Homo sapiens: one gene and its partners. The protein of the gene in region 4 interacts with the protein of the main gene of each other region in a biochemical or structural test. Each region holds a gene or a part of one and is shown on either strand. Other genes may lie near its edges.

What was found.
Region 1: the proteins of UBE2D2 (region 4) and ANAPC11 form a complex in vitro, tested with the Homo sapiens proteins (11 studies listed by BioGRID).
Region 2: the proteins of UBE2D2 (region 4) and BIRC2 form a complex in vitro, tested with the Homo sapiens proteins (9 studies listed by BioGRID, with this or other methods).
Region 3: the proteins of UBE2D2 (region 4) and PRKN form a complex in vitro, tested with the Homo sapiens proteins (8 studies listed by BioGRID).

The regions. Positions count from the first base shown.
Region 1 is NC_000017.11:81,887,481-81,894,740, reverse strand, and holds the start of ANAPC11 (anaphase-promoting complex subunit 11), read right to left. Parts: upstream 3,019-7,260; 5' UTR 2,900-3,018; exon of another isoform or gene 2,878-2,899; intron 2,815-2,877; exon of another isoform or gene 2,635-2,814; intron 1,638-2,634; exon of another isoform or gene 1,554-1,637; intron 1,190-1,553; 5' UTR 1,127-1,189; intron 275-1,126; 5' UTR 264-274; coding exon 155-263; intron 1-154. Other genes in the region: ALYREF (THO complex subunit 4), read left to right, coding at 3,161-3,418, 3,921-4,052, 5,412-5,559, 6,158-6,221, 6,323-6,500, 6,596-6,610. UniProt on the Homo sapiens protein: Together with the cullin protein ANAPC2, constitutes the catalytic component of the anaphase promoting complex/cyclosome (APC/C), a cell cycle-regulated E3 ubiquitin ligase that controls progression through mitosis and the G1 phase of the cell cycle.
Region 2 is NC_000011.10:102,357,210-102,364,230, forward strand, and holds part of BIRC2 (baculoviral IAP repeat-containing protein 2), read left to right. Parts: intron 1-5,686; coding exon 5,687-5,765; intron 5,766-6,458; coding exon 6,459-6,507; intron 6,508-7,021. UniProt on the Homo sapiens protein: Multi-functional protein which regulates not only caspases and apoptosis, but also modulates inflammatory signaling and immunity, mitogenic kinase signaling, and cell proliferation, as well as cell invasion and metastasis.
Region 3 is NC_000006.12:162,724,759-162,731,995, forward strand, and holds the start of PRKN (E3 ubiquitin-protein ligase parkin), read right to left. Parts: upstream 3,009-7,237; 5' UTR 2,911-3,008; coding exon 2,904-2,910; exon of another isoform or gene 2,784-2,903; intron 2,535-2,783; exon of another isoform or gene 2,374-2,534; intron 1-2,373. Other genes in the region: PACRG (parkin coregulated gene protein), read left to right, coding at 3,478-3,633. UniProt on the Homo sapiens protein: Functions within a multiprotein E3 ubiquitin ligase complex, catalyzing the covalent attachment of ubiquitin moieties onto substrate proteins. Substrates include SYT11 and VDAC1.
Region 4 is NC_000005.10:139,556,646-139,564,347, reverse strand, and holds the start of UBE2D2 (ubiquitin-conjugating enzyme E2 D2), read right to left. Parts: upstream 3,010-7,702; 5' UTR 2,557-3,009; coding exon 2,533-2,556; intron 2,105-2,532; exon of another isoform or gene 1,941-2,104; intron 1-1,940.

The DNA of each region.
Region 1 (7,260 bases), on a different chromosome or scaffold from region 4:
GGTCTCAAAAAAAAAAAAAAAAAAAGAAAATGAAACTGGGTATTTCGTGCAGGTATTTAACAGGAGCTACTGAGGCTAGTCCAGCAGGCAGCAGACAGCACAGAGGGGACACTCACAGTCGGGGCCGCTCAGACAGCATGGAGGGGACACTCACAGTCAGGGCAGCATCCGTTAAATGCCATCCTGCAGATGCCACAGTTCTCATCGTTGGCCACCCAGAGCCAAGTGGCCACGCCGTTCCAGCACTTAATCTTCACCTTCATGGCAGCAGAGCCTGCGGCGGAGGGAACAGGACGACTGGCTAAATTGAGTCTGCAGAGCTAGAACGTTTAGGCACCAACACAGGTATAAGCCTGCCACAGTGCAGTCCCAGCTACTCAGGGGGCCAAGGCAGGAAGATCATACCGGCCCAGGAGTCCGAACCCAGCCTGGGAAACATCGTGAGCCCTGTTTCTATTTTATTTTACTTTTATTTTTATTAATTTTTTTTTTTTGAGACAGAGTCTCACTCTGTCACCCAGGCTGTAGTGCAGTGGCATGATCTCAGCTCATTTCTTGTGCTTCGGCCTCCTGAGTAGCTGAGGCTATAGGCACGTGACTCCACGCCCGACTAATTTTTGTATTTTTAGTAGTCGAGGTTTCACCATGTAGGCCAGGCTGGTCTTGAACTCCTGGCCTCAAGCGATCTGCCACTGCGGCCTCCCAAAGTGCTGGGATTACAGGCGTGAACCCCTATGCCCTGCTATGAGCCCCGTTTCTATTAAAACAAATAACAAGTAAAGGGCTCTGGGCCCAGAGGGTCAGGGCTGCAGGGGAGCTACGGGAGAACAGCAAGCCCCAGCAGCAATCCGCTTTGTGGCTCACACCTGTGATCCCAGCACTCTGGGAGGCCAACTCGGGAGGATCGCCTGAGCTCAGGAGTTTGAGACCAGCCTGTGTAACACAGTGAGACTGAGTCTCTACCAAAAAAAAAAAAAAAAAAAAAGGAAAAAAAAGAACTATCTGTGAGGTTTCTTTAGCCATCTAGAGAAAGGGCACACTCTTCTCTCCAAGGGAAGGGACTCAGCTCCTTACGGACAAGGAGATCACATTTGGGAGCACAGGACAGTCAGGAGTTTGGTTTTACCTCACGTTGAGGATATCTTCAAAGATCTCAAATGGGCCTGGCCAACATGACGAAACTCCGTCTCTACAAAAAATACAAAAAAATTAGCCGCAGGTGGTGGCTCATGCTTGTAATCCCAGCACTTTGGGAGGCCGAGGAGGGTGGATCACTTGAGGTCAGGAGTTCGAGACCAACCTGGCCAACATGGTGAAACCCCATCTCTACCAAAAAAACAAAAATTAGAGGCCAGGCGTAGTGGCTCACGCCTGTAATCCCAGCACTTTGGGAGGCTGAGGCAGGCAGATCACAAGGTCAGGAGTTCAAGACCAGCCTGGCCAACATACTGAAACCCTGTCTCTACTAAAAATACAAAAAATTAGCCGGGTGTGGTGGTGGGCAACTGTAATCCCAGCTACTCGGGAGGGTGAGGCAAGAGAATCACTTGAACCTGGGAGGCGGAGGTTGCAGCGAGCTGAGATCACGCCAGCTCCCAGCTCTATTCGGGAAGCTGAGCCACAGGAATCACTTGGACCTGGGAGGCAGAGATTGCAGTGAGCCGAGATCGCACCACTGCACTCCAGCCTGGGCAACATAGTGGGACTGTCTCAAAAAAAAAAAAAAAAGCCAGCTGTGGTGGCGTGCACCAGCTGCCTGAGAGGCTGACGTGGGAGGATAGCTCGAGCCCAGGAGTTTGAGGCTGCAGTGAGCCAAGATCACACCACTGCACTCCACTCTGGGTGACGGAGGGAGACCCTGACTCAAAAAACAAAAACAAAAGCAAGTATCTCAAAACAACTTAAAATCCATGAAATGGGCTGGGTGTGGTGGCTCATGCCTGTAATCCCAGCACTTTGGGAGGCCAAGGCGGGCGGATCATCTGAGGTCAGGAGTTCAAGACCACCCTGGCCAACATGGCGAAACCCTGTCTCTATTAAAAATACAAACATTAGCCAGGTATGGTGGCACGTGCCTGTAGTCCCAGCTACTCGGGAGGCTGCCGCTGGAGACTCGCTTGAACCCAGGAGGCAGAGGTTGCAGTGAGCCGAGATCGCCCCACTGCACTCCAGCCTGGGCGACAGAATGAGACTGCCTCAAAAAAAAAAAAAAAAAATCAATGAAATGGCACACTGGTTTTCATTAATAAGTTGCAAAAATAATTTTTTTTTGGAGACAGGGTCTGGCTCTGTCGCCCAGGCTGGAGTGCAGTGGTGCCACCACGGCTCACTGCAGCCTCGACCTCCTGGGCTCAAGCAATCCTCCCACCTCGGCCTCCCAAGTAGCTGGTAGTACAGAAGTGCACCACCATGCCCAGCTCATTTTTTTTTTTAGAGATGGGGGTCTCACGATGTTGCCCCGGCTGGTCTCAAACTCCTGGGCTGAAGCGAACCTCTTGCCTCGGCCTCCCAAAGTGCTGGGATTACAGGCGTGAGGCCCGCGCCCGGCCCGCAAGAAAACTTGTAAAGGATATGACTGGCAAAATGTGACAGTGCAGACTTGGGGGGGCTGCAGGTGGAGACCAAAAAACCAACCCGCAGCTCGTCTGCAGCGGCTGCCGCCCGCCGAAGCCGCGCCCGCCGGACCCCACCGCGAGCCGAGCGCACAGTCCTGGGCGGGAGCGGAAACAAGGACTCCCAGCAGCTCCCAGGCACCCGCCGCGCCCGTAGCGCCCCCAGCGCCCCCAGCCCTGGCCGATCGGGCGGAGCGTGCGGGGAGGGAGGGGCGCGTAGGCTCCGCCTCCAACGGCCGCCGCCCCACCCCCTGCGCCCTCGCACCTTCGCCAACCTAATCACGCACCGCCCTACCCGCCCTTCCGTTGGCAGCGCCGGCGTCCGCGCGGGAAGGTATAAAAACGACCACAGTCGCGGCCCGACTCCCTCAACAGCGCCCGCCGAGTCTCGCACGCCAGTGCGCACGCGCCTCCCCGCCTCACCCCGTCCCGCGCGCGCAGCCGTCCGCCAGCGGCCAATCAGCAGCCGCTCCGAGGCCGTGGCACCGGAAGGCCTCACGCGGCGCCGGAAGTGACGTGCCGGCGTGCTGACGCGCGGGCTCGAGCCGATGCCCGATTCCGCGCCCGCCATGGCCGACAAAATGGACATGTCTCTGGACGACATCATTAAACTGAACCGGAGCCAGCGAGGCGGCCGGGGCGGGGGCCGGGGCCGCGGCCGGGCCGGCTCCCAGGGCGGCCGCGGCGGTGGGGCGCAGGCCGCCGCGCGAGTGAATCGAGGCGGCGGGCCCATCCGGAACCGGCCGGCCATCGCCCGCGGCGCGGCCGGCGGAGGCGGCAGGAACCGACCGGCGCCCTACAGCAGGGTGAGTGCGGAGGCCGGCCGCGCCGGAGAGTGGGAGGGGGCCAGCCGGGGCTGGGGCCGGGGCCGCTCGCGGCGGAGACCCGGGCCGGCGGGTGGATAAGGCTGGTGGAGCGGCCGCCCGGAGGTCCGGAGGGTGCGTGTGGGCGCGGAGGGGGTGGTGGGCGGGAGCGAGGTCGTTCTTTCGGGGTCCGGTCCCGGAGGCTGAGACCCTTCCCAGCTCTTTGTTTGTTCCGGACGTTGGGGCCTCGTGGCAGGAGAGGAGGGGACGCTGGGCGCGGCACAGGCGGCGGGAAGTTAGTCTAAGGGAACTGAAGTTGTGCGGCCGCGGTGGGACCGTGCGGCCTCGGGCTGGGGCAGCTGCAGCGCCGGAGGGAGCGCTGGCGGCCCCGTTTCGGCCGGATCCTCTCAGGCCGGGAAGAGGAAGGGTCCGGAGTAGCCGTGAGGGTCAGGAAAGCCCTGGACTGAGACTCACAGATCTGCTCTTGTTGCGGTTTTTTTTTCAGCCAAAACAACTTCCCGACAAGTGGCAGCACGATCTTTTCGACAGTGGCTTCGGCGGTGGTGCCGGCGTGGAGACAGGTGGGAAACTGCTGGTGTCCAATCTGGATTTTGGAGTCTCAGACGCCGATATTCAGGTAAGAGACGAGGGCTTCTCGGTGAGCCGTTCGCCCTGCACAGGACGGATCGTGATTTTGGGGATGTGGCCCTGAGTCCCCTTCCCGCCTTAGCGAAGGGAGCCCTCCCAGCTCTGAAGGGCTGCAGGACAGACCCAGTGCTAGTAAAGCCGGGGTCAGTGCGCAGGCAGGTGCGAGCCTAGCTGAGCCTGAGGAACTGCTGCTGTTAGTCTGAAGATGGGTTCTGTGAGTGAAAATCCCCTGCCAGGGCTTCCAGTTTCTAACAGGGACAAAGACTGACCAAATGTGAGTGGTTTTTGGCTGTTAGACCCAGCCCAGTTGCTTTTTAAATTTTGTGCCTGTCTTAGTGGGTTAATGTGAGAAAAAGAATCTTCTTTATGTATCTTGTGAAGCACAGGGAGTCTGTTTTTCTGGCTCTGTTTGCCTTGAGTACTGTCTTATAAAGACCTTGTACGCTGTGGTTTTATCACTCCCCACCGCCGTGTCCCGTCAGTGACATGACTCTCAAATCCATCTTTGGTTGAAGCTTTTCTTTTTTAAAAAAAGAAAAATTGAATCCCAATGGCATTTCAACTTGTTTTCTGGTTAAGAAATGACTTTTTGGGAATCAGTTTTGGAGATGGCTGGGCAGGGTTCAGTTGCCCACAGCCCAGCCATTTGCCTTGGGAGGACAGAGTAGGGCCAGTGAGCACTCACAGTGTCTCAACACTTTTTTTAAGGTGGTTTCTAGCATCCACTGGAAACCGCTTTTGGTGAACTCCAGTTCCCGCTGTGTGCCTGCGGCCGGAGTATCCCCACACTCTGGGTTCCCTCTCCAACTCCCAGCCTGCCTGAGGTCAGGGCAGTTTCCATGACAGCGCTTGACTTCAGACTTTGCCGCAGGCTTGAGTAGGAGGAGAGGGAAAGGTGAGCCAGAATCTGCCTTTGGGGGAGGGGCTGGGGTCAGGGCTCCCGAATCTACAGGCCCTTCAAGCTGGTCTGATATCGGACTGCTTCCCTTGCTCTTGATTTTGGCCTTTACCGTTTCTTGGAACAGCCCTTGGGTGTGTTGTACATTTTCCTTTGTTGAAGAGGATAGTGGCTTAATTTTGTGCCCGTTGCTAGTGGGCTTTGCAGCTTCCTCTACCTGCATCGTGGTACACGTGTCAGGTCCCCACAATGGCAGGAGCCCTCAGACCCAGGTGCTCTTGGAAGTTGCTGTCCCTCCTGCCCCGCCCTTCCCTCATTTCCCGTTAACCACTGTCCTGCCTCCCAGAGAACCACCCCCAAAGCAACTCACGCTTCCAGGGCCTGTCCCTGGGCCACCAGAAGGAACGCAGTTTTGTTGCTTTTCTGACAACTGCTCTCTGCAACTCCCAGGAACTCTTTGCTGAATTTGGAACGCTGAAGAAGGCGGCTGTGCACTATGATCGCTCTGGTCGCAGCTTAGGAACAGCAGACGTGCACTTTGAGCGGAAGGCAGATGCCCTGAAGGCCATGAAGCAGTACAACGGCGTCCCTCTGGATGGTGAGTCTGGGGGTGGACCCACGCTGACTGTGGGGCTTGTGGAGTTTGGGGCTGGCACCTGTCCAGGTAGGAATATGGGGTACCCCTGTGGCTGAGGACACTTTGCATTTGCCCCTTTGTCTCTCTCTTCCATCTGCCACCTCTCATGCTGCCCCACACATCTGGACCAACCTCTTGTGAACCCCCATCCAGCAAGCTACATCCCTCCCCTCCTTCAGCTCCTTCCGGAAGATTCACTTCTGTGAAGCCTTCTCAGAACCGCCATAGTACACCTCTGAGTGCGGGGCTGTAGTCGTAAAGACAAAGGTACCGGTTCTTCTTCGTCAGGTCACCCACACCTCTCCACCCACGAGCACCCCGATACCTCAGCGAGCAGCCCACCTAGTCTGGACTGAGAAGGAGTGAGGAGGTGTTGGTGGGGTTGCTTCCTTGCCATTTTGTTCTCCCACCAGTATCTCCAGGCCATTTCCCTTGTCGGGGGCATTTGAGACGCACAGAGGCCCTTTCCAGTGTTTGCATGGAGACCAGGGTGTGGCGCCAGCTGGGTGGGTTTCAGAGCCTCTCAATAGAACGTGCCTTCTCGTATTCTTTGCCGCAGGCCGCCCCATGAACATTCAGCTTGTCACGTCACAGATTGACGCACAGCGGAGGCCTGCACAGAGGTGACTTCCGGGGCCTCTGGGGAAGGGGATTGGCCGAGGGTGAGGCTGCGTCGCTCTTAGGGTCCTTCCGGGTGTGTGAACGGTTTCGTCTTCCTTGCTAGCGTAAACAGAGGTGGCATGACTAGAAACCGTGGCGCTGGAGGTTTTGGTGGTGGTGGAGGCACCCGGAGAGGCACCCGCGGAGGCGCCCGTGGAAGAGGCAGAGGTGCCGGCAGGAATTCAAAGCAGCAGCTTTCGGCAGAGGAGCTGGATGCCCAGCTGGACGCCTATAATGCGAGAGTGAGTCCCGGGGGAGCCAGCTGGGGGCCTGGTCAAAGCCGCAGTGGGGAGCAGGCCGCCTGTGAATGCAAGCCTCTTTCTCCTCTGTGTTTCAGATGGACACCAGTTAAACAGACCAGCAAATCCGCGTGCGGAACAGGACCCAGGCGTCTCCTCTTGCTCCCTGGTTGGGGGGCGGTGGCTGGGGCTGTGCGGCCAATGATGGATTTGTTTCTTTTATGTTTTAAAATAGGATTTAAAAACTCATGTAAAGGTTTTTTTTTTTTCTTTTTTTTTTTTTTTAATTCTGAAACAGACCTGTTTTGTACCGAGTTATTTTTGGGATAAATTTTACTGGTTGCTGTTGTGGAGAAGGTGGCGTTTCCACCTTTTCCATAATAAAATAGAAATGTGTGTAGAACTGGAACTGTTTGATTCGTCCCACTGTTGGAGTCCAGGCCTGGGCCAGGATTTTGGTGTCTGTCCAGCTGGGAGGGGGTGGGAGAACCTGAGTTGGGGATGGAGGGAGCAGCCCCATCTGGTGTTGGACACCTGAAGTTGGCATGGGTTGTGGGGGTGGCGGGGGGTCCCCGCTCCTGGAGGGCCGAAGCTGCCTGTCTTCTTTCTTATCTTCTTTCCTGCCTCACACCTAACACCTTCCTCTCTAACTCACCAGGTGGGAGGACACCTTTGCCCGGGAGCCACCTGTTGACCCTTGTGCCTGTGCCTCCAGGTGAGGGGAGGTTGGGGTGGGATGGCTGCCCTGTGTGCCGTCCACAGG
Region 2 (7,021 bases), on a different chromosome or scaffold from region 4:
ATGCTTGGCTTCATAAAATGAGTTTGGAAGTATTCCCCCCTCCTCCCTCCTTACTCCCTCTTCCCTCCCTCTTCTTCCTTCTTCCTCCTCCTCCCTTTTCTTTCTTCTTCCTCCTTCTTTCCTCCTCCTCCTCCTCTTCCTTCTTCTCCTCCTCTTCCTTTCTTCTTCTTTCTTCTTCTTGATAGAACTGTGCTATGAGGTCATCTGTTCCTGGGCTTTTTCTTTGTCAGAAGAGTTATGACTACTGATTCAATCTCCTTACTAGTTATAAGTCTTTTCAGATCTTCTATTTCTTCTTTATTTTAGTCTTGATAAATTACAAGTTTCTAGGAATGCATCCATTTCTTCTAGGTTATACAGTTTTTTGGTGAATAATTGTTCATGGTAGTCTCTTATGGTCATTTGCGTTTCTGTGTTATCAATGGTAACATCTCTTGGTTTTGATTTTATTTATTTTCGTCTTCCTTTTTACTAGTCAAACTAAAGCTTTGTTGATTTTACTTATCTTTTCAAAATCCAGCTCTTAGTTTTAGTGGTCTTTTCTATTGTTTTTGTAGTCTCTATTTCATGAGATTTTGTTATTTCCTTCTGCTAACTTTTTCTAGTTCCTTTAGATGTAAAATTACGGTGTTTATTTAAGATTTTTTTTAAATATAGGCGATTATTGCTATAAACTTTCCTTTTAGAACTGCATTTGTTCTATACATTTTGCTATGTCGCATTTCAATTTTAATATTTCTTGTGATTTTTTAAAATTTTCTTTTTGATTTCTTCTTTGACCCATTGATTATTCAGGAGTATTTTGTTCAATTTCCACATAGTTGTCAGCTTTCCAACTTTCATTCTGTTATTGATTTCTGGTTACATACCATTGTGGTCTGAAAAGATACTTGATAGGATTTCAGTCTTCCTCAGTTTGTTGAGTCTTGTTTTGTGACCTGCTGCATGATCTACGCTGGATAATTTTTCTTGTGTGCTTAAGAAGAATGTGTATTATCTGCTGTTTGATGGAATGTTCTGTATAAAGGTTGAGTATCCCCAATCCAAAAATCCAAAATCCAAAATGTTCCAAAATTTAAAACTTTTTGAGTACCAACATGATGCTGAAAGGAAATGCTCTTTGGAACATTTTTGGTTTTGCATTTTTGGATTAGGGATGCTCAGCTGGTAAACATAAGGCAGGTATTCCCAAATCTAAAAAATGTAAAATTCAAAACACTTCTAGTCCCAAGCATTTCAGATAAGGAATATTCAACCTGTATGTTAGATCCATTAGATCCAGTGTATAGTTGAAGTCCAATATTTCCTTACTGATTTTCTGTCTGGATGACCCATCCATTATTGAAAGTAGGATTTTTGAAGTCTTCTAGTATTATTGTGTTACTATCTATTAATGTCTTCAGATCTGTTAATATTTTCTCTGTTTATTTAGGTGGTCTGATGTTGGGTACATATATATATTTACAGATACTGTATCCTCTTGTGGAATTGGCCCCTTTCTCATTATATAATTACTTTCTCTGACTCTTTTTACAGTTTTTGATGTAAAGTCTGCCCTATCTGATAAAACTTTAGCTTCCTCTGCTCTCTTTTGGTTTCCATTTGCATGGAATATCTTTTTTCCTATACCCATGCATGTGCTTAAAGGTGAATTGAGTCTCTTGTAGACAACCTGTAGCTGAATCTTGTTTTCTTTATCCATTCAGCTGCTCTTTATCTTTTGATAGGAGAATTTGGCCCATTTACATTCAAGGTAACTATTGATGGGTAAAGACTTCTGTCATTTTGTAATTGTTTTCTGATTGTTTGGCAGATTATTTGTTTCTTCCTCTCTTGCTGTCTTCCCTTGTGTTTAGATGATTTTCTGTGGTGGTATGCTTTGATTCCTTTATATCTTTTGTGCATCTACTATTGGTTTCTACTTTGTGGCTATCATGAGGTTTACATAGAACATCTTATAGTTATAGTAGTCTGTTTCAAGCACTAACAACTTAATTTCAATTGCATTAAAAAACTGTACTGTTACTCAGACCCTCCTGCACATATTTTATGTTTTTGATGTCATTATTTGCATTTTATATTGTGTATTCATGAAAAAATTATTGAAGCTATAGTTATTTTTAATACTTTTTTTTAAAAACCTGTATTTTAGAATTAAGTAATTTACACATGACCATTACAAATTTAGTATATTATTAATTTGATTATATATTTATCTTAACAGTGAGTTTCATACTTTCATATGTTTCCATGTTGCTAATTAGTGTCCTTTCATTTCAGCTTGGAGAACTCTTCAGCGTTTCTTGTAAGGCGCGTCCAGTGGTGATAAACTCCCTCAGCTTTTGTTTGTCTGGGACTGTTTATATCTCTTTCATTTCTGAAGGACAGCTTTGCTGGGATACATATTCTTGTCTGGTAGTTTTGTCTTTCAGCACTTTGAATATATCATCCAACTCTCTCCTGGCCTACAAGGTTTTTGCAGAGAAATCCACTTGTGGTCTTATAGGGTTTCTCTTGTAGAAGATGAGTTTCTTTTCTGTTACAGTTTTAAAATTCTCTTTCATCTTCTATTTTTGCCAGTTCATTATAATGTGTGTCAGTGAAGTCTTCTTTGGGTTGAATCTTTATGGGGTCCTATGAACTTCCTGTACCTGGATATCTTTCCCTAGATTTATGAAGTTTTCAGCATTTTTTTTTTAAATCAGCTTTCTGTCCTTTCTCTCTTTTCCTTCTTGAATTCTCGGGTTTGTTTTTCATTTTCTTGGGTTTTTTTTTTTGATGGTGTCTTGTTCTGTCACCCAGGCTGGAGTGCAGTGGCATGATCTCAGCTCACTGCAACCTCCACCTCCCAGGTTCAAGTGATTCTCCTGCCTCAGCCTCCCACGTAGCTGGGACTACAGGTGTGCACCACCATGCCCAGCTAATTTTTGTATTTTTAGTAGAGACGGGGTTTTGCCATGTTGGCCAGGCTGGTCTTGAACCCCTGACTTCATGTGATCCACCCGCCTCAACCTCCCAAAGTGCTGGATTACAGGTGTGAGCCATCGTGCCTGGCCTTGAATTCTTAAAATGCAAATATTGTTTTGCTTGATGGTGTCCTATAATTCAGGTAGGCTTTCTCCACTATTCTTTTTTTTTTCTTTTTTTCTCCTCTGACTAGATAATTTCACATGATCTGCCTTTGAGTTCACAGGTTCTTCTGCTTGATCAGGTCTGCTATTGATGCTCTCTATTGCATTTTTTGTTGTTATGTTCTTCAGCTCCCGAATTTGTTTCTTTTTATTATTCCTATCTCTGTGTTGAATTTCTCATTTGTTTGTATATATTTTTTTATTTCATTATCTGTGTTCTTTTGTAGCTCACTGAGTTTGCTTGAAACAATTATTTTGAATTCTTTATCTGTTAGTTCATAGATCTCCATTTCTTTGTGGGTGATTACTGGAAAATTACTGAGTTTCTTTGCTAATGTCACGTTTCTTTTTTTTTTTTTCTTTCTGTTTCTTGTGGCCTTGTGTTATCTGTGTATTTGATGGACGAATTACTTCTAGACATTACAGATTAGTGTGTTTTTTTTGTTTTTTTTTTTGTGGGCAAAGATCTTTGCCTGTGGGTGAGGGTGAGGGTGAGGGCGCCAGCCAGTAGGTGTGGTGGTTCTGGCTCTGTGGAAGGCCCAGCATTGTGAACTCCATGCAGCTCCATTAGCCCAGATCATTGTCAGTGAGGATTGCAGGGGTCCTCAACATCCAAGGCTGCAGGTATCCATACCAGCAGCAAGGCTTTTTTTAGTCTATAGTGGCAGAGGCTGCTGGGGACCTCTTCATCACTTTTTCTCCCATGGGAGACATTGTGGCCAAGGGGATTCTTCTTGGCACAGGTTCTGGCTTTGGGCTTGTTGTGTTGGTGGAGGTGGCAGCACTGATGTCTCTGATGGCGTGGACACCTGTGGAGCAGCTACAGAGCCAAGGTTTGGAGTGCAAGTGTTTGCAGAAAGACAGCGGGTCTTGGGTTCAGGATGTTGACTAGCCTGCAGCAGTGGTGCTTCTAGTGCCTCAGATGTGGGTGCACGTAGAGCAGCCTTTGAGTTGGGTGCGGAGTGCAGGTGTGCAGAGCAGCCAGAGAGCTGGGATCTGGAGAGTGTGTGATTAGAGCAGCCACAGAGCAAAGGTCTTACATGAAGGTACATGTGAAGCAGCTGTGGCTCTGGGGTCTGGGGCATATGTGGGGGTTAGGGGCTGCACTGTCTGGGCAGTGCAAGAGCTGCTTTTTTTCAGGGTGAGGAGTGCAGTAGTGTCTCCCTCTCCAGGGGGTTCACAGCAGCAATGGGTGCTGGTTACCTTAATGGTGAAAGCTGTCAGTGTCCTCTGCAAAGTAGGCTACTGGGGTTGGCATCAATGAACACTATAGGGTCCTTCACTGTGAAACCTGCAGGAAGTCTGTGGCTATCTTGAGGGTTATTGGAGGTCTCCAGGGACCTGCTCTGGGGAGGAGCCTAGCAGTCTTTGCCACTGAGGACTGTAATGGCACTCACCACATGACTGATACAGGTAGCCCTCACCCCTTGTTCTTAGCCATCTCCAGATGTCTCTGCTAAGCAGATCTCCCAGCAGTCCTTTCTGTGTGGTTATTCTCCCTTTTTTTTTTTTTTCCCTTTATTGCTGTAGGCTGATTGGGCTAGTGAGTTCTTCCAGAGCTGTATTTGTGTATAGCTGTCTGTTTGTTGTTTTTTGTGGGTGGAAGAAGGCTGATGTCTCCTAGTCTGCTGTCTTGCTGATGTCACTCTTGCAAACTTTCAGTCTGCGGCTTTTCATTTCTTTAACATTGTCTTTTGAAGAGCAGATGTTTTCAATTTTGATGATGTCAATTTATCAATTTTATCTTTTGTGGAATATGTTTTTGGTCTTTTGTCTAATAATTCTTTACCCAATGTAAAGACAAATAAAGACAAGGCTTTTTCCTAGAAGTTTTATTGTTTTTGGTTTTATATTTAGGTATATGATCCATTTTTACTATTTTTGCATATAATATGGGCATAGGTCAGTGTTCCTTTTTTTTAACATATGAATATTCTGTTGTATAGTATCATTTATTGAAGAAACAAAAGGAATAGAATAGATATAGATGGTATGTGAACTTCTTGGAACATCTTTGAGAAGCCCTATCAGTTTAAAAACAAATATTTGAGAAACACTGTCATATTATATATAGATAAAAATATTTGATTCCATATTTTTTGGAGGGAAGGTAGTGGATTCTGGCTCAAATGTAATGGAAGAGTGAACATTGAAGAAAAATGAGCAGTTATTGTATTGTGAAAGATCACATTTTAGGAATACTGAGTTAATAGTATCTGAAACTGTTAAGTAGTTCACTTTAAGCACAAAATAGATTGTGTATAATAGTGTTCTTCAGGAGTCAACTTGTTCCCCTTTGTAGGTGCAGACGCTTTTCTTTTTGTTGTTGTGTTAATGGATTGAATTAGAAAATACCGTGATATATAACACACAGAAGGATGTATATTGTTTTATGATAATTTTGTTCCTGTTAGATATGTATGTGTTCTGGGTTGTGACGTAAAATGTTTTTACTATGGAGTACAATGAAAGATTTGAAAGCCATTTTTCTAGAATGATCAGGTTATATTTGATATGAAACAATTTTAAAAAATAATTTTCCTCATATGTTTTAGGTGTGAGTTCTTGATACGAATGAAAGGCCAAGAGTTTGTTGATGAGATTCAAGGTAGATATCCTCATCTTCTTGAACAGGTAAATACATTTTTAAAATTAACAACATTGAATTCTGCTTTATAATAACAAAAATATTATTAGGTTGGTATAAAAGTGATCATGATTTTTGCCATTGAAAGTCATGGCCAAAACCGTGATCACTTTTGTACCAACCTATATTAGAAGTTATGCTTATTTCTCTTTTATTAATTGTAGGTACATACTTTCATCCATGTTAATGACATCTTTGGTTTTTACTTTTGTAACCAACTTGATTTTTGAGGGCTTTTTAAAAAAGATTGTTTTTTTGTTTTTACTATTTTGAAAAATCATTTATGCTGCCACTGTACAAATTTGTGATGGGATTGGAGAAGGATCTTTAGTGTCTCTTTGCTGTTTTCCAGAAAAACAAACAAAAAATAACTTGTTAGGAGCTGAGACCCTTGGAGAGTAACCCAGTTAAAATCTTATTTTCCAAATGAAATGAGAAACCACTGATACATTTTTCTACTTTCCTGAAACTAGAGAAATACTTGATTTCTAATTTGGGATGACATGAAATTTAAGGAAATCTATGTGATTAGGGTAAAAGAAAGCAAAGCAAAGGTCATAAATCACTCAGTTCTCAAAAGAACATATACATTTACTTAAAGTAAGCTTATTTTAGTGTTGTTCTTTTCAGATTGTTGGGGATATCTGCTTTTACCTATTAACTTTTCTCTTGTTTCATAGCTGTTGTCAACTTCAGATACCACTGGAGAAGAAAATGCTGACCCACCAAGTATGTATGAGATAATTTTAAGTATAGAGTGTAAATTTTTATAAGAATTTTAGGAATAGGCTGGGTGCAGTGGCTCATGCCTGTAATCCCAACACTTTGAGAGGCCGAGGTTGACAGATCACCTGAGGTCAGGAGTTCGAGACCAGCCTGGCCAACATAGTAAAACTCCATCTACTAAAAATACAAAACTTAGCCGGGTGTGATGTGCCTGTAGTCTCAGCTACTCGGGAGGCTGAGGCAGGAGAATTGCTTGAACCCAGGAGGTGGAGGTTGCAGTGAACTGAGATTATGCCATTGCACTCCATCCTGGGCAACAGAGCGAAACTCCATCTCCAAAAAAAAAGGTAGGAATGAAAGTATGTATTTTTTAAAAGAGTTTCTGAAGCCATAGGGAAAAATACTGGGAAGTCAGCTAATAAATATTATATATATATATATATATATATATATATATATATACACACACACACAGAGAGAGAGAGAGAGAGAGAGAGAGAGAGTGTAATGACACTGT
Region 3 (7,237 bases), on a different chromosome or scaffold from region 4:
TTTGTTTTACAGAATGAGTTTATAGACTCTTGTTCTCTGTAACTAGTGATTTCAAGTATTCTGTTTTATCTAAGTAGTACAACGAAGGTCATAAAAAGCCTGAGTAGGCCTGAACTACAGCTGCCTGGGCACCACAGAGAAGGTTATAGGATAAGCCTGTGCCCAGGCAAACCTAGAAAACGAACATCTGGGTTGCTTGGCAATGGTCATCTGCAATCCTGTCTTTGTCCTGCCTCTGTATCCCTGCTTTCACGCCACTGTAAGCTTGCTTCAAGCTAGCCCACCTCCGTTTGTGAAGTGTGTATAAAAGTCAAGTACTGTCTTTATTCTGGGCCCAGTCTTTTGGATGTGAGTCAGCTGGGCCTGAGTACACTCAATAAAGATTCTCCTGCTTCAACCTGAGGTCTCCCTCATACTCCCGAATCCCGCAACAAGGTGAGTGTAATAGTTAGAGAAAGCATAGGCCTGAAAGGAGCAAGCTTTGAGAAGCACTCTTACCTTTAACAGAAAATCCCAGATACATACTATTTACATTTTAGTGATCACTGGATAAAGTCTATAATGTCTTTCCTGGCTCTGAATTTTTGTCACAAAAACACAAAACCCATCACTCCAAGGCTTCCTTTTAATGGTTTTCACTTTCACCTACCTTTAGCACTGTTCACGACACCCAAATCCCAAACTGACCATTCAGATGTTTACTGAAATGTGGCTAATGAGGCTGGGCGTGGTGGTTCATGCCTGTAATCCCAGCACTTTCAGAGGCGAATGCGGGAGGATTGCTTGAGCCCAGGAGTTTGAGACCAGCCTGGGCAACATTATGAAACTCCATCTCTACAAAAACTATAACAAAAAATTGGCAGGCATGGTGGCACACACCTGTAGTCACAGCTACTCAGGAGGCTGAGATGGGAGGATCACTTGAGCCCAGGAGTTGGAGGCTGCAGTGAGCTGTGATGGTGCCACTGCACTCCGGCCTGGGTGACAGAGACAGAACCTGTCTCAAAAAGAGGAAAAAAAAAAAAAAAAGACGTGTGTCTAATTTCAGAATTAGGCAATGCAACTAGTTGAATATTTTATTGCACATTGTCCATGATCTTATATGTAAGGCACATTTCCTAGGGAAAGCAGGCATGGATTTAATCATTTATGTTGTACTGCACACTTATTTGCACTATGTAAAACCATGGCTGGAGTGAGAGAAATAACACTTTTAAAAACCAACCTTATATTCTCCATGTCATTACCAGTAATTGATAACTGTTTAATCATCAACTCCAAAGATATTTCTTCCTTATTGGAAGAATTCCAGATAAAACTAAACAGAACTGTCCAAACACATTTCATCCTAATAAAGTTATTTATATAATCACTTATTAGGTCATAACTTATAACTGAGTAATGTTCTTTAGATCTTAAGTGCTTGTCTTTATATAGCTTTACAATAAATTTGTTTCTCTTAAAATTATCTGTGCACTAGATTAAGTTAAATTAAAATAAAATGTATTTAACTGTCTTCAAAATAAGGTATAGGCTATTTTCTTCCTGTAGACTGACAGCACAGATATTGGAAAATCTCTTCTACTTGGTTTTCTGATTCAGTTCAAACTTGTGCTTGCAAGTGAATCTTACGTAAATGTCACCTAAAAAGAGCTCAAGAAGACTCATAAAAAATATTTTTTTCGTAATTTGATTAACTTTCAAGTCATTCACCAAAAGTCAGACCATGCTAGAAAGGGAAGAAAAGTTGGACAACATTCTTGTTTTACCACAAAGACCATGCCAGTTAGCTGGCTTGATTCTCCCACTGATGGGGAGAATGTTTACATTTTAACAATAACTTCACAAATAAACAGATGTAAGAAGTGTTTTCAGTGCATAAAGATCATATACTTTATAAATCCACCTCTCATCTTTCTTCTGGACAGACCACATCTGACTTCGAACGTACTTACTGCAATCAAAAGTGTTTTGTAAAGGACCCTCCTCAGGAATAAACAAGCTCACTAAACCCTCCATACATAACCTGGAGAAACCTCCACAATAATGAAACCCCATCTAGCACTGTTTTTCAAACATATGGTGCATTTCCATTAATTTTCAGGGATAGCCCCTAAAGTAACTTTTGGCTCAACAACCCTGGAAGAGAGGACCTTTGCTCATCTTACACATCAAGTGTTCATGAACAACTCTGATGCCACTAAGTTTCGTTCACAAACTTGCACCTCGGTCGTTCTTTTACAAAAAAAAAAAAGAAAGGTTATTTTGCAAAAGGCAATAGATTTAATCTTGGCTACTATTTACTCTTAATGTTTCTTTCATCTCAGCCCTCCAATGAGAAGTTTAAAAGGAAACATCCGAGGGAGCAAGTTTAGATCTATCTGGAGGAGTTTCTGTGGAGCCAGCCACCCTCACCAGGTGCCTTCCATTAGAGTTTAATGCTTTGCTGCGGTTTCCTGAAAGAGCCCCACAGAGAGTGGGTCTCGATGGGTCCTGAACCGCACCACAACCGGCCAGTGAGGTGAGGGGCGAAGGTGAGGGGCGGCGGCGGGGCGAAGGTGAGGGGCGGCGGCGGGGAGAAGGCTTCGGGACCCCACACGGTCCGGGGGACCGCGAACGAGGAGCGGGGGTGCGGGGCCGCCTGGCGTCCCCGTCGAGGCGGTCTTCATGAGAACGCTCAGAGCAGGGGCGGGCAGGCGAGGGCTTCGAACGCACACACTGGGGCCCCGGACCCGCGTCGCTGAGCTGGGGAGCCCGGCGGCGCGGGCCGGGGACGGCACGGGCACTTTGGCCCCGTCATTGACAGTTGGCACCGGGGGTCCTGGTCGGCCGAGGCGGGGCGTGGCGCCATACCGGGGCGTGGGGCGGCGCAGAGAGGCTGTACCTGGCAGGTACCCACGTACCTATCATGGTCACTGGGTAGGTGGCGGCTGCGGGCCAGGAACAGGCCCATGCGCGCAGCGGCGCCAGCCGCGCCTCCCACCAGCGGCTCTCCTGGGTTAAATCCTCCAGGCCTCCCCGCCCCCGCGCCCGGCCCTAGGAATGCGCACGCGCGGAGGGCGCGGCCCAGGGCCTGCTGGGAGTCGTAGTTCTAACGCGTAGTTTCTCCTCACGCCTCCTGCCCCCAGCCCCCCACCGCCGCCCTTTCCGGCTTCAGGCCCAGCAATCTTACGTCACCGGGGGGCGGGGCTATGCGCCCGCCGTGTTGACCAGTCGCTTAGCAACCGGGAGGCTTACCTTTGGAAGCTTGTTGCAGCTCTAGCCAAGGTCCTGCCCTCTTCCCGCCCCGCCCCTAGGGTCCAGCTCCCTTCACCTAGGAGCTGCCAAACATCTGGATCAACCTGGGCACTACGAGGGGTTGAATTTCTACCATTATCGCGCCTTTTGATATTTTTTTCCAGACCTCCTGCTCACATCCGTAAAGCCCACTGATTCTTTTACTACACTTTTTATGAGAACAAGACATTTTCTAGGAAGATGGTGGCAGAAAAAGAGACCCTGAGCTTAAACAAATGCCCAGACAAGATGCCGAAGAGGACCAAGCTGCTGGCACAACAGCCGCTCCCGGTGCACCAGCCTCACTCTCTGGTTTCTGAGGGTTTCACAGTCAAAGCCATGATGAAAAACTCAGTCGTAAGTGATCTTCCTGAATTAAATGCACTCGCTCTGAATCAGGGGACACGAGATTTACAGAGGTTGGCCAGCCTTAGGATGGACTCTGAGCCATGTCCTGGGTGGTCTTTGCCAAAAAAGGCAGTTACTTGGCAAGTAGCAAACGGTGCCCCACAGTGTGTGGGGGGCAGGCTAGGTTGTTAGAATCTTGGGCAAGTGATGTACTCTGCCCATTTATAAGCACCTTCCTGATAACTTATGGTTTCTGGACCGCCCAAAATTACTCTTAAGCTATTTACACGAGGAAAAAAGATCCCCTTTACTTACTAATTCCTAACTAGCCCCACTCAGCAAAGGGCCTTATAGAAGGTGAGTTCTTAGAAATCATAAACTCTTGCAAAATTTAACATGAGCTGATATACAACCGGGAACATAAACTCATGAAATAATCTATAATGAGAAATTTCTTCACTTCAACCTAGGAAATTTTAGAATATCCTAGCATTTGCTCTAACAACACTTGTCTCTTACAAAATGATGTCATCTTCTTAGAGTACTGAAAGCCAACTTAATATGAACACTGTTTCCTGACAGGCCTTTTAAGATGATGTGCTTTAAACAATACAAGCTTTAGCTCATATATCTCTGCTACTAATACAATTCATATTTCATCTCTATTATTTGTAGTAATAAAAATAAAATATTCTAAGTATCATTAGAGAAAAAAGATTAAAAATATATACAAATATTTTAGCTGTCTGCATGATAGTATATATTTTTTAAACCTTCCTATTTGTTAAATAGCTTTACACTTGGTATGCTAAGACAGATTTTGCTACTGAGTAAGCAACTGTCTGGGAATGAGGCATTAAATAATAAATGCATCTTTCAAATTTGTGTAATTTACACCCTGGGAAGATCTGAGTTATTACATGGCAATTCATTATGTTAAATGAATAGTGTTGTTTTCCAGTGTCACATTATTTCCTTTGCTTATAGGTTGCAAACCTGATAACTTATTCCTAAACGACATACTTAAAATACATGAATGAAACAGATTACCTATAGACCTCTAGGCCAGGTTCCCATGTGGCTATGCAAAACGATATCCTAATTATTGGGAAGTGTGTCAGGTGATTTACAGTAGTTAAAATTCTTGGAAATGGACTAAAATTCTGCTTGTTGTAACTAATTCTTTTTCATGGAATTTCACATAAATTGGTTCTCCTAGGAGTCAAGATGATGCATTTATCAGCAATACCATAACCATTCAGGTTAATCATTTAGTTTTTCTTCTACACAATATTTACAATTTTGATGTTTTTTAATGTTATACTTTAATTTTTTTTTTACTGGTTGGGGTTCTTTTCTGTTTTTTCCTAAACCTGTATTCATAATTCTTGTATCATATTAATTCTTTAATATAATCTTACACCTAAAGAGATAGTTCTGCAAAATCTGATGTTTCTGTATTGCCAAATGTAATAAGTATGCCTACATGACTTAAAAAAAACATTGATTATGAAGCAGGCTTCTTTATAAACAACTTAATTGAGATCCATTATCTTCTCTTTTTATGTTCTAAAGGAAAATCTTGTACTAGCAATACCTCTCTTGCCATTGGAAATCGTAATTCTTAAATGCAAACATTATTTATCCATTCATCTATTTATTCAGTCAACAACTGTCTCTCTTTTTTTTTTTTTTAATACCCAGTGTTTGCTAAGCACAGTTCTGGGGATTTGGGATCAGCAAAGCAAAGTCCCTGCCCTTAGTACTCCGAGGAAAACCAAAATAACAACATTCAAATCTTGATAAAAGAAGGCTGGACAATACCGTTTATACAAAATAACTTCAGTGGTACAGGAAATAAAAATTTTCAATTTCATAACCAATATTTACATTTCACCATTTTTATCTTTAGCAGTATAGACTTCTCAGCATTATAAGGTGAAAATGTCCTCATCTCTTTCTGAAGGTGTATTTTGATTCAGGACGTGTATGCCAATTTCCAGCTTTTCTTAATTGCAACCTCATGCTCCAAGAGCCAACACCCTCCAAACCACTTTTCCAGTTAGATAAGTCAACATTCCAATGCTCTTCCACCTAAAACATGAAGAACTGTATATATCATAAGGAGTTATACAGAGACTCCTGATATTTCTCTGAGTGCGATAGTGATACAAGTACATAAACTTGATAATAAATATGTTTCATCAAATGGGCTGTGCAAGCAGAAATGCTTATTTAAACAATCTGGATATGAGAGTGCAAGATTATTGAAAAAATAATGATAAATGTAAATGGCAAAATTTTTAAAATCTCAATGTCAAATATTTTTCTTCAATAGAAACTAGACTTTCTTTCCATGAAATTTTTGTTGCATTCTATAAGAAAACAAGCATCACAAAAGCCCTGCAATGAAATAATATTCAAATTCACATTTTTATAGTGCTTGCCTATAAAGAGATATGAGATACACAACTTGAAGATTTCATAGTTCATTTTCCTTTAAAAGTCTTGTTTGGGGTGTGATAGAGCCCATGACCAGAAACTAGTAACCCAGTATTTTGTTGTCTTTATCTTGTCAGATACTTTCTGTGCTGAACAAGCTTATCACGAAGCAAGTTAGAAAATCGACCCAGGGTTATGGTGACAGAGAAGTTGAGTTCAGCCTAAGCTTTCTATTACAGCTTTCCTTCTCAAAAGACTATAGATGCTTTATGCTCAAAGTTTAGGGGAATGGAATAAATAATTTTTTTAATATTAAAGGTTGAGTATTCCTATTCCAAAAGTCTGAAACCTGAAGTGGTCCAAAATACAAAACTTTTTGAGTGTTGACATTACACTCAAAGAAAACTCTTTTGAGCATTTTGGATTTCAGATTTTCAGAACTGGCGTGACCATCAGTATATAATACAGATATAGTCAGCTCTTTGTACAGATTCTGCCTCCATGGATTCAACTAACCTTGGATTGAAATGTTTGGGATAAAAATTTTATCTGTATTGAACATGTACAGACTTTTTTTTTTGAGTCATTATTCCCTAAACAATAGAGCATAGCAACTATTTATGGAGCATTTATATTGTTTTAGATATTATAAGTAATATAGACATGATTTAAAGTATATAGGTAGAAATGTGTAGGTTACATACAAATACTACGCCATGTTATATCAGGGACTTGAGCATCTGAAGATTTTGGTATCTGCAGGAGGTCCTGGAAACAATTCCTCATGGAGACTGAGGGATGACTGTATTCCAAATTTGAACAAAAAACAAAAACAAATCCAAAACACTTCTGGTCCCAAGCATTTCAGATAAGGGATAGTTCAACCTATACTTTACATGTATAGTGTGTTTTATATTTACCAATCATGTGCTCATTTAACACGTAGTGGTAATCATCAATATTTATAAATTATATATTAAAATATTAATTTGGCTTCTGTAACACTGACCAAATAACAATAGCTTAATTAAGATGGAAGTTGTTTCTCTCATAATAGAAGTTCAATTTTGTAGGCAATCCCAGGAGGTTGGGCAGCATTCCCCATGAGGCAGGTGCAGGGGCATAGGAGCATGTTTGTTCTTTGCATCCTGTAAAATGACACCTGAGACAA
Region 4 (7,702 bases):
ACCCCGTTTCTACTAAAAACACAAAAATTAGACAGGTGTGGTGGTGCGTGCCTGTAATCCCAGCTACTCGGGAGGCTGAAGCAGAAAAATCACTTGAACCCAGGAGGTGGAGGTTGCGGTGAGCTGAGATCGTGCCATTGCATTCCAGCCTGGGCGACAAGACTGAAACTCTATCCCCCAAAAAAGTTCAAATTATTTCTAAACTTGATTTTATTAAAAAAATCTTACAAAGGCATATTTTAAGGAAAATCTATTCTAGAAAATATGTAGCAACTCATAAGAAACTATATTACCAGAGCAAGTATTATTAATTAAAACGTATGTTTTGTGTCAAAGAGATAGTTCCCTCTCTGAAAAAGTCCGTTACACATATAATTCAATGTAGAGATTAAAGTCTACATTTCTTTTTTTTTTGAAAGGGAGTCTCGCCTGTGGCCCAGGCTGGAGTGCAGTGGCGCGATCTCGGCTCACTGCAAGCTCCGCCTCCCCGGTTCACGTCATTCTCCTGCCTCAGCCTCCAGAGTAGCTGGGACTACAGGAACCCGCCACCAAGCCCGGCTAGTTTTTTTTGTATATTTTAGCAGAGACGGGGTTTCACCGTGTTAGCCAGGATGGCCTCGATCTCCTGATCTCGTGATCCACCCACCTCAGCCTCCCAAAGTGCTGGGATTACAGGCGTGAGCCACCGCGCCCGGCAGGTCTACATTTCTTTATCTGTAAATTATTACACATTATACCCACTTGCTCTTTCTCAGGTTATAAAATAAGAGGACAAGCTTCTACAGGTATTTGATAACTTCCCAGTTAGATTCTATAAGGACCTAGCAATTCCTAAAAGCCTTTAAAATACATATGTATATATTTTTTTTGGATGACTACTCCTCAGTGTGCTCCCCTGCCCCTTAAACGGTTCTTTAAGACATCTTTGCTTAAGGTTCAAGCTTCTTTATGGTATTTAACAAATACCATTTCATTTTAGTACAAGATTTATTGTCTAAAATCTGCCCTTCTTCATTTGTTAGAAATCAGAGTCAAAAGAAGTTAAGGAGCTAACCTAATTATAGTAACCAATGGGACTGATTCCACACTGTCTTTGAGCAAAAATGAAATGAGGACCAACCGCTGAGCTGAGGTGTTTAAATCATCAATCTGTATTCTGACTTAGTTTAAGACAAGCTAAAAACTGGTTCTCTTCCTCTTGCATCCCCATCCCATCATTCAGAATGGATAACCCCAGTACCTACTTCTAAGTAGCTACAGGTATAGGCCGTGTGCAGTGGCTGATTGATGCCTGTAATTCCAACACTTAAGGGAGGCAGAGACAGGAGGCTAGCTTGAGCCCAGGAGTTCCACACCAGCCTGGACAACACGGCAAGACCCCGTTCTCCACTAAAAGGAAAAAGATGTATTGAAGAAAAAAGTAGCTACCGGTTTAATATAGCCAATCTGAGTAGCCAAGTGAAACACCAAACAGAAATTAATAGTGGTGCCTCCCTACTTCTAAGAAAAAAAACATGAAAGTGGCACTAAGAGGTTACAACATCAGAAAGGGAAAAAAAATAAATTTTAAGCCAATCTTATAGTCTAGATGTATTATTAGGAAAACCTCCTTATTGATAACTAAATAACCCTTCACTTTAAAGAGCAAAGAAATCCTTTTTAATACAAAATCTAGTAAAACCCCTTCCCAGTTAAGAGTCTCGGTAAACATATCACCTAATAGCGTCAAGTCCATTTTGCGAAGAGGCTGTGAAAGGAACTTTTGTATAATTTCTCTGGTGGTTTTCAATGTTCAGGTTTCTACCTCTACCTTTGCCAATGTACAGCTTTTCTATTAGATCCAATCCTGCAAAACGGAAGTGTTAGTTTCTAACTACATACAGCAACCTCAAGGAATAAAATGATTCTCCCTCTACTTCCCTCCTCCCTCATTAAGTCACCTTTTTTTTTTCTTCTGAACTTCCAACTCTTAACAGTTTCTGGACAAGCAGGGTGGACCGATGTGTGCTGCCACCCAAGAGGTAAGTGAACTCAGGATATACTTGTGGATCGGGCAAAACGGCTTCCTCTGTCAGCCCGAGCTCAGGCGGTTTTGTGGAGGGAGCTAGGGCAGGTGTGGGAGGAGGGAACAGAAATGGGGCGAGAAGCCCTTTCGACCTCTGTCGAAGGGGCCGCCCAACGCCCCAGCGCCCCCCTCGGCCCCAACCCCGCCATCCTGGCCCGACAATGGCCCTCAAGTGCAGCGGCAGTCCCAGACTGGAGAGAAGCCCTAAGAGTCCACACCATGCGGGCCTGGAAGGGCAGCCGGGGAGGAACGCTGAGGCCGCGAGAGCACCTCCGGCCTAAGCGCGGGCTGCGCGCCGGGGCCTCCACGGGCGCCATCACTGGGAGTGGGGTATGGAGGCCGCCCCGAGGGGCCAGCACCGGCAGCAAGATCCAAGGAGGCCGCGAGCCCGACGGAGACTACGGCGGGAAGTGCAGGCCGCAGCCTGCTCAGCTGGCCAGCAGCGCAGCCGACCTCCGGCCGCTTACCTTGTGGATTCTCTTCAGAGCCATGGTGGGAGGCGGGTGGCGGCGGCCCCCGGGGCGGGGACGGGGGCGGGGAAGGGACGGGGAAGGGGCTAGGGAGCCTGAGGCCGCCTCGGCGATCTCGGTCGGCAGGAGAAGATGGAGAGTTGAGGAAAGCGGGTCCGGCGGGACGGGCTGAGGGCCGGGGCCCACTCAGCTCCTGGGCCTGCCGCAGCGGTCACCGCATCACCCGGCGGCGGCCCCTTTATTCGCCGCCGCCCTAGCCGCCACCGCCGCCGCCGCCGTAGCTGCCTCTTCCTCCCAGGATCAGCGCCGCCTCCTAAACCGCCGCAGATCCCTCCGCCAGAAAGCAAAAGCCCAAGCCTCGGGCTCGGCCGGCCTCTCTTGGTCGGACAGCCGGAGGGATTGCCTGTCTTCCTCCCTGCTGCAGGTGGACCGAGGGACGCGCGGGCGGGCGGGCTGCGCCGCCGGGGTGGGGCCGTCGGAGCACGGGGTGGGCCCGACCGAGGGGCAGGTCGGGAGGCGCGGGGATTGGCGGGCCAGGGGAGGGAGGGCCGAGCCGCGCCGGCGGCGGAGGGATACGGGCCGCCCCTGTGAGTAAGCTACGCACCGCCGTCGCCGCCACGGCCCCGGAGGGCGTGACGCTGCGAAGCCCTGGGCGGAGATCTCGCGAGATCTAGAGCGCGAGTTCTGCAGGCTCCAGCGCCGCGACCGTTGACTTCATTGCTGATGGAAACCCACGCGCGTGTCACAAAAGATCAATAAATATTAAAAGGCGAATGTTGTCCAGATCTCACGACCGTCCCCGTACTAGTCCCGGGAGGAGGCACTTAGGCCCACTGCAGCGCTCCTGAAGGAGGAAGGGACTTGGCCAAGGTCACAGAGCTCTTCTGAAGTCCTGGGACTTAGCACATCTCTTTCCAGAGGCCGCGTGGCTACAGCTCGGGCACCTGCCACGAGGGAGATGTCTCATAGCCGCTCGGGTTGCAGTGAGATTGGCCTTCCGGACCAAGGCCCCAGATGGAGAGGATTTGAATGTTGTGTTCTCAGCCACTGGCATGTATGTGTGCCTTCGAGGTGTCCAGACTCTGCTCAGCTTAGTGAATTGCAAATTGTTACAAGCAAGCACTGTACCAGCTGCGTCAGAAAAAAAATCACAGTGTGTGCCCCAAATAGTTAAAACCAACGGCTGGGCGCGGTGACTCACCCCTGTAATCTCAGCACTTTGGGAGGCTGAGGCTGGCGCATCACCTGAGGTCAAGAGTTCGAGACCAGCCTGGCCAACATGGTGAAACCCCATCTCTACTAAAAATACAAAAATTAGGCCGGGCACGGTCACTCACGCCTGTAATCCCAGCACTTTGGGAGGCCAAGGCAGGCGGATCACGAGGTCAGGAATTCGAGACCAGCCTGGCCAACACAGTGAAACCCCTTCTGTACTAAATATACAAAAATTACCCGGGCATGGTGGCAGGCGCCTGTAGTCCCAGCTACTCGGGAGGCTGAGGCAGGAGAATCGCTTGAATCCGGGAGGCGGAGGTTGCCGTGAGCCGAGATCACGCCAGTTCACTCCAGCCTAGGCAACAGCAAGAATGCGTCTCAAAAAAAAAAAAAAAAAATAGCCGAGAGTGGTGGCAGGTTCCTGTAAACCCAGCTACTGGGGAGGCTGAGGCAGGAGAATCGCTGGAACCCAGGAGGCAGAGGTTGCAGTGAGCCGAGAGCACGCCATTGCACTCCAGCCTGGGCGACGAGCAAAACTCCATCTCCAAAAAAAAAAAAAAAACCAACCTCGTGCTCCAGATACCCATCAGGAGGGTCCGCTGAAAATCAAACCTAGAATATTTGGAATTGTTTTTTAGGAGATGGAGACAAAAAGCTAAATCACTGAGCACCTACCCTGTGCCCAGCCCTACACCATGACTGGTGTGAGATACGGAGCCAAGCCAGGGCTAGAGGCCTTACACAGGAGAATAGTAAAGAATATTTTGCTGGGAGGTAATGCCCACATTCTGAAATCTACCCCTGGCGTTTTCTGATTCTAAATGTCTCCTTTTCGCTACATCCAGAAAGGACCTTGCAGATCATTGATTCTAGCTCCTGAATTTATAGAGAAGAAAAAACTGGAGCCCAACTAAGGGAAGGATCTTGCCAAAAGCCACACAGTAGGTGAGTGGCAAAGCTCATACTGCCTCACCTACTGAGAAGGTTGGACCATTAGGACAGAAGCACCGTGCACCCAGTGAGAGAAAATTGTATCCAGTGGTTCAGGGTGGGTATAGTTGAGGTTGAGGGTAAAATGGAACATCTCACAGCCCCAGATATTTTCTTCCTAAGAAATGTGATGGGAGGGGTACAAAAATCTCCACTGGACAGATTTCTTTTTTTTTTTTTTTGAGACGGAGTCTCACTCTGTCGCCCAGGCTGGAGTGCGGTGACGCTATCTCGGCTCACTGCAAGCTCTTCTCCCGGGTTCAGGCCATTCTCCCGCCTCAGCCTCCCGAGTAGCTGGGACTACAGGCACCTGCAAGCACGCCCGGGTAATTTTTTTGTATTTTTAGTAGAAACGGGATTTCACCTTGTTATCCAGGATGGTCTCAATCTCCTGACCTCGTGATCCGCCCGCCTCGGCCTCCCAAAGTGCTGGGATTACAGGCGTGAGCCACCGCGCCCGGCCGACAGATTTTTTTTTTAAAGTTATTCTCAGTAATAACTTTTGTATTAGAAAAGCTCCTGGACACGCCTGTAATCTCAGTAATTTGGGAAGCTGAGGCGGGAAGATCACTTGAACTCAGGAGTTCCAGACCAGCCTGGGCAATATAGAGACTTCATCTCTACAGAAGATTGTAAAAATTAGCCAGGTATGGTAGCACGCACCTGTGGTCCCAGCTACTTGGGAGGCTGAGGTGGGGAGGATAGCTTGAGCCTGGGTGGTCAAAACTGCAGTGAGCCGTGGTGGTTCCACTGCACCTCAGGTGTGGTGAAAGAGCAAGATCCTCTCTTAAAAAAAAAGCAATATGTATTTGTTGTAAGACATACCTATAAGTAAAGGAAGGAAATAAAAGTCACCCACACTCTCATCATCCAATAATTAACCACTTTTGACATTTGGTTAATGTCCTTCTAGTCTTTTTTTCCCTTACATATAAATATCAATACATATTTTTCTTTGAAAAATGTGGGGTCATTGCATAATACTGTTTGGTAATCTACCTTGAAAATAAACAATATATTGGCTGGGCGCGGTGGCTCACGCCTGTAATCCCAACACTTTGGGAGGCCGAGGCGGGCGGATCACGAGGTCAGGAGATCAAGACCATCCAGGCTAACACGGTGAAACCCCGTCTCTACCAAAAATACAAAAAATTAGCCGGGCTTGGTTGGCGGGCGCCTGTAGTCCCAGCTACTCAGGAGGCTGAGGCAGGAGAATGGCGTGAACCCGGGAAGCAGAGCTTGCAGTGAGCTGAGATCGCGCCACTGCACTCCAGTCTGGGCAACAGAGCAAGACTCTGTCTCAAAAAACAAATAAGAAAATAAACAATATATCGTGAATTTTCCTGTTTCAAATATTTCTACCTTATTTTAATGGCTTTGTATTCTAGCATATAAATGTACCATATTTATTTAACTGGTCACATTTTGGGGAACATTTGTTTCCCATTTTTACTATTAAAATAATGCTGTGGTAAATATCCTAGCTATCCTATAGTTCATCTTTTTTCTTTTTTTTTCTTGAGATGGGGTCACTGTCTCTCCCTCAGGCTGGAGTGCAGTGGTACACGTCAGCCTCCAACTCCTGGCTCAAGTGATCTTCCCACTTCAGCCCGCTGAGTAGCTGGAACTATAAGCTGGAGCCACCATGCCTGGCTAATTTTTATTTATTTTTTGTAGAAACAGGATCTTTTTTTAAAAAAAATCATATGACTCTTCTTGATAAACAGACTCTTAATCTTTATACAGCTCTAAGAGTGCCTTAGGATAAACTCCTAGAAATGAAACTGCAGCATTAACAGATATGCAGATTTTTGCATCTGTGTTCATGAGGGATATTGGTTTGTTTGTTTATTTATTTATTGAGACAGACTCTCACTCTATTGCCGAGCCTGGAGTGCAGTGGTGCGATCTCGGCTCACTGCAGTCTCCGTCTCCGGGTTCAAGTGATTCTCCTGCCTTAGCCTCCCAAGTAGCTGGGATACAGGTGTGCACCACAACGCCTGGCTAATTTTTGTATTTTTTAGTAGAGACAGGGTTTCACCATGTAGGCCAGGCTGGTCTCGAACTCCAGACCTCAGATGATCTGCCCGCCTCGGCCTCCCAAACTGCTGGGATTGCAGGTGTGAGCCATTGCGTCCAGCTGGGATATTGATTTATAATTTTCTTTTTTTGTAATATCTTCACCAAATTTTCATATCAAGGTTCAGCACTTGGGGAAGCCGAGGCTGGTGAATCACCTGAGGTCAGGAGTTCAAGACTGACCTGGCCAACATGGTGAAACATGTCTCTACTAAAAAAAAATACAAAATTAGCCAGGCGTGGTGGTGCTGCCTTTAATCCCAGCTACTTGGGAGGCTGAGGCAGGAGAATCACTTGAACCCGGGAGGCGGAGGTTGCAGTGAGTCGAGATTGCACCATTGCACTCCAGCCTGGGCAACAAGAGCAAAACTCAGTCTCAAAAAAGAAATAAAAGTTGGCTGGGCACAGTGACTCATACCTGTAATCCCAGCACTTTGGGAGGCCGAGGCAGGCAGATCACAAGGTCAGGAGTTCAAGACCAGCCTGGCCAACATGATGAAACCCCGTCTCTACTAAAAATACAAAAATTAGCTGGGCATGGTGGTGAGCGCCTGTAATCCCAGCTACTCAGGAGGCTGAGGCAGGAGAATTGCTTGAACCCGGGAGGCAGAGGTTGCAGTGAGACGAGATTGCGCCACTGCACTCCAGCCTGGGCGACAAAGCAAGACTATGTTGCAGAAAAAAAAAAAAAAAGTATGGAACTATTCAGATTTTCTTTTTCTTCTTGTGTCAATTGTGATAATTTGTGTTTTTCAAGGAATTTGTTCATTTATGTTGTCCAATTTATTAGAATAAAGTTACTCATAATATCCTTTTATTTTTCCTTTTATTAGGTTAATGGGCAAAACTGCCATTACTTTTGCAGCAACCTAATACTATCTGT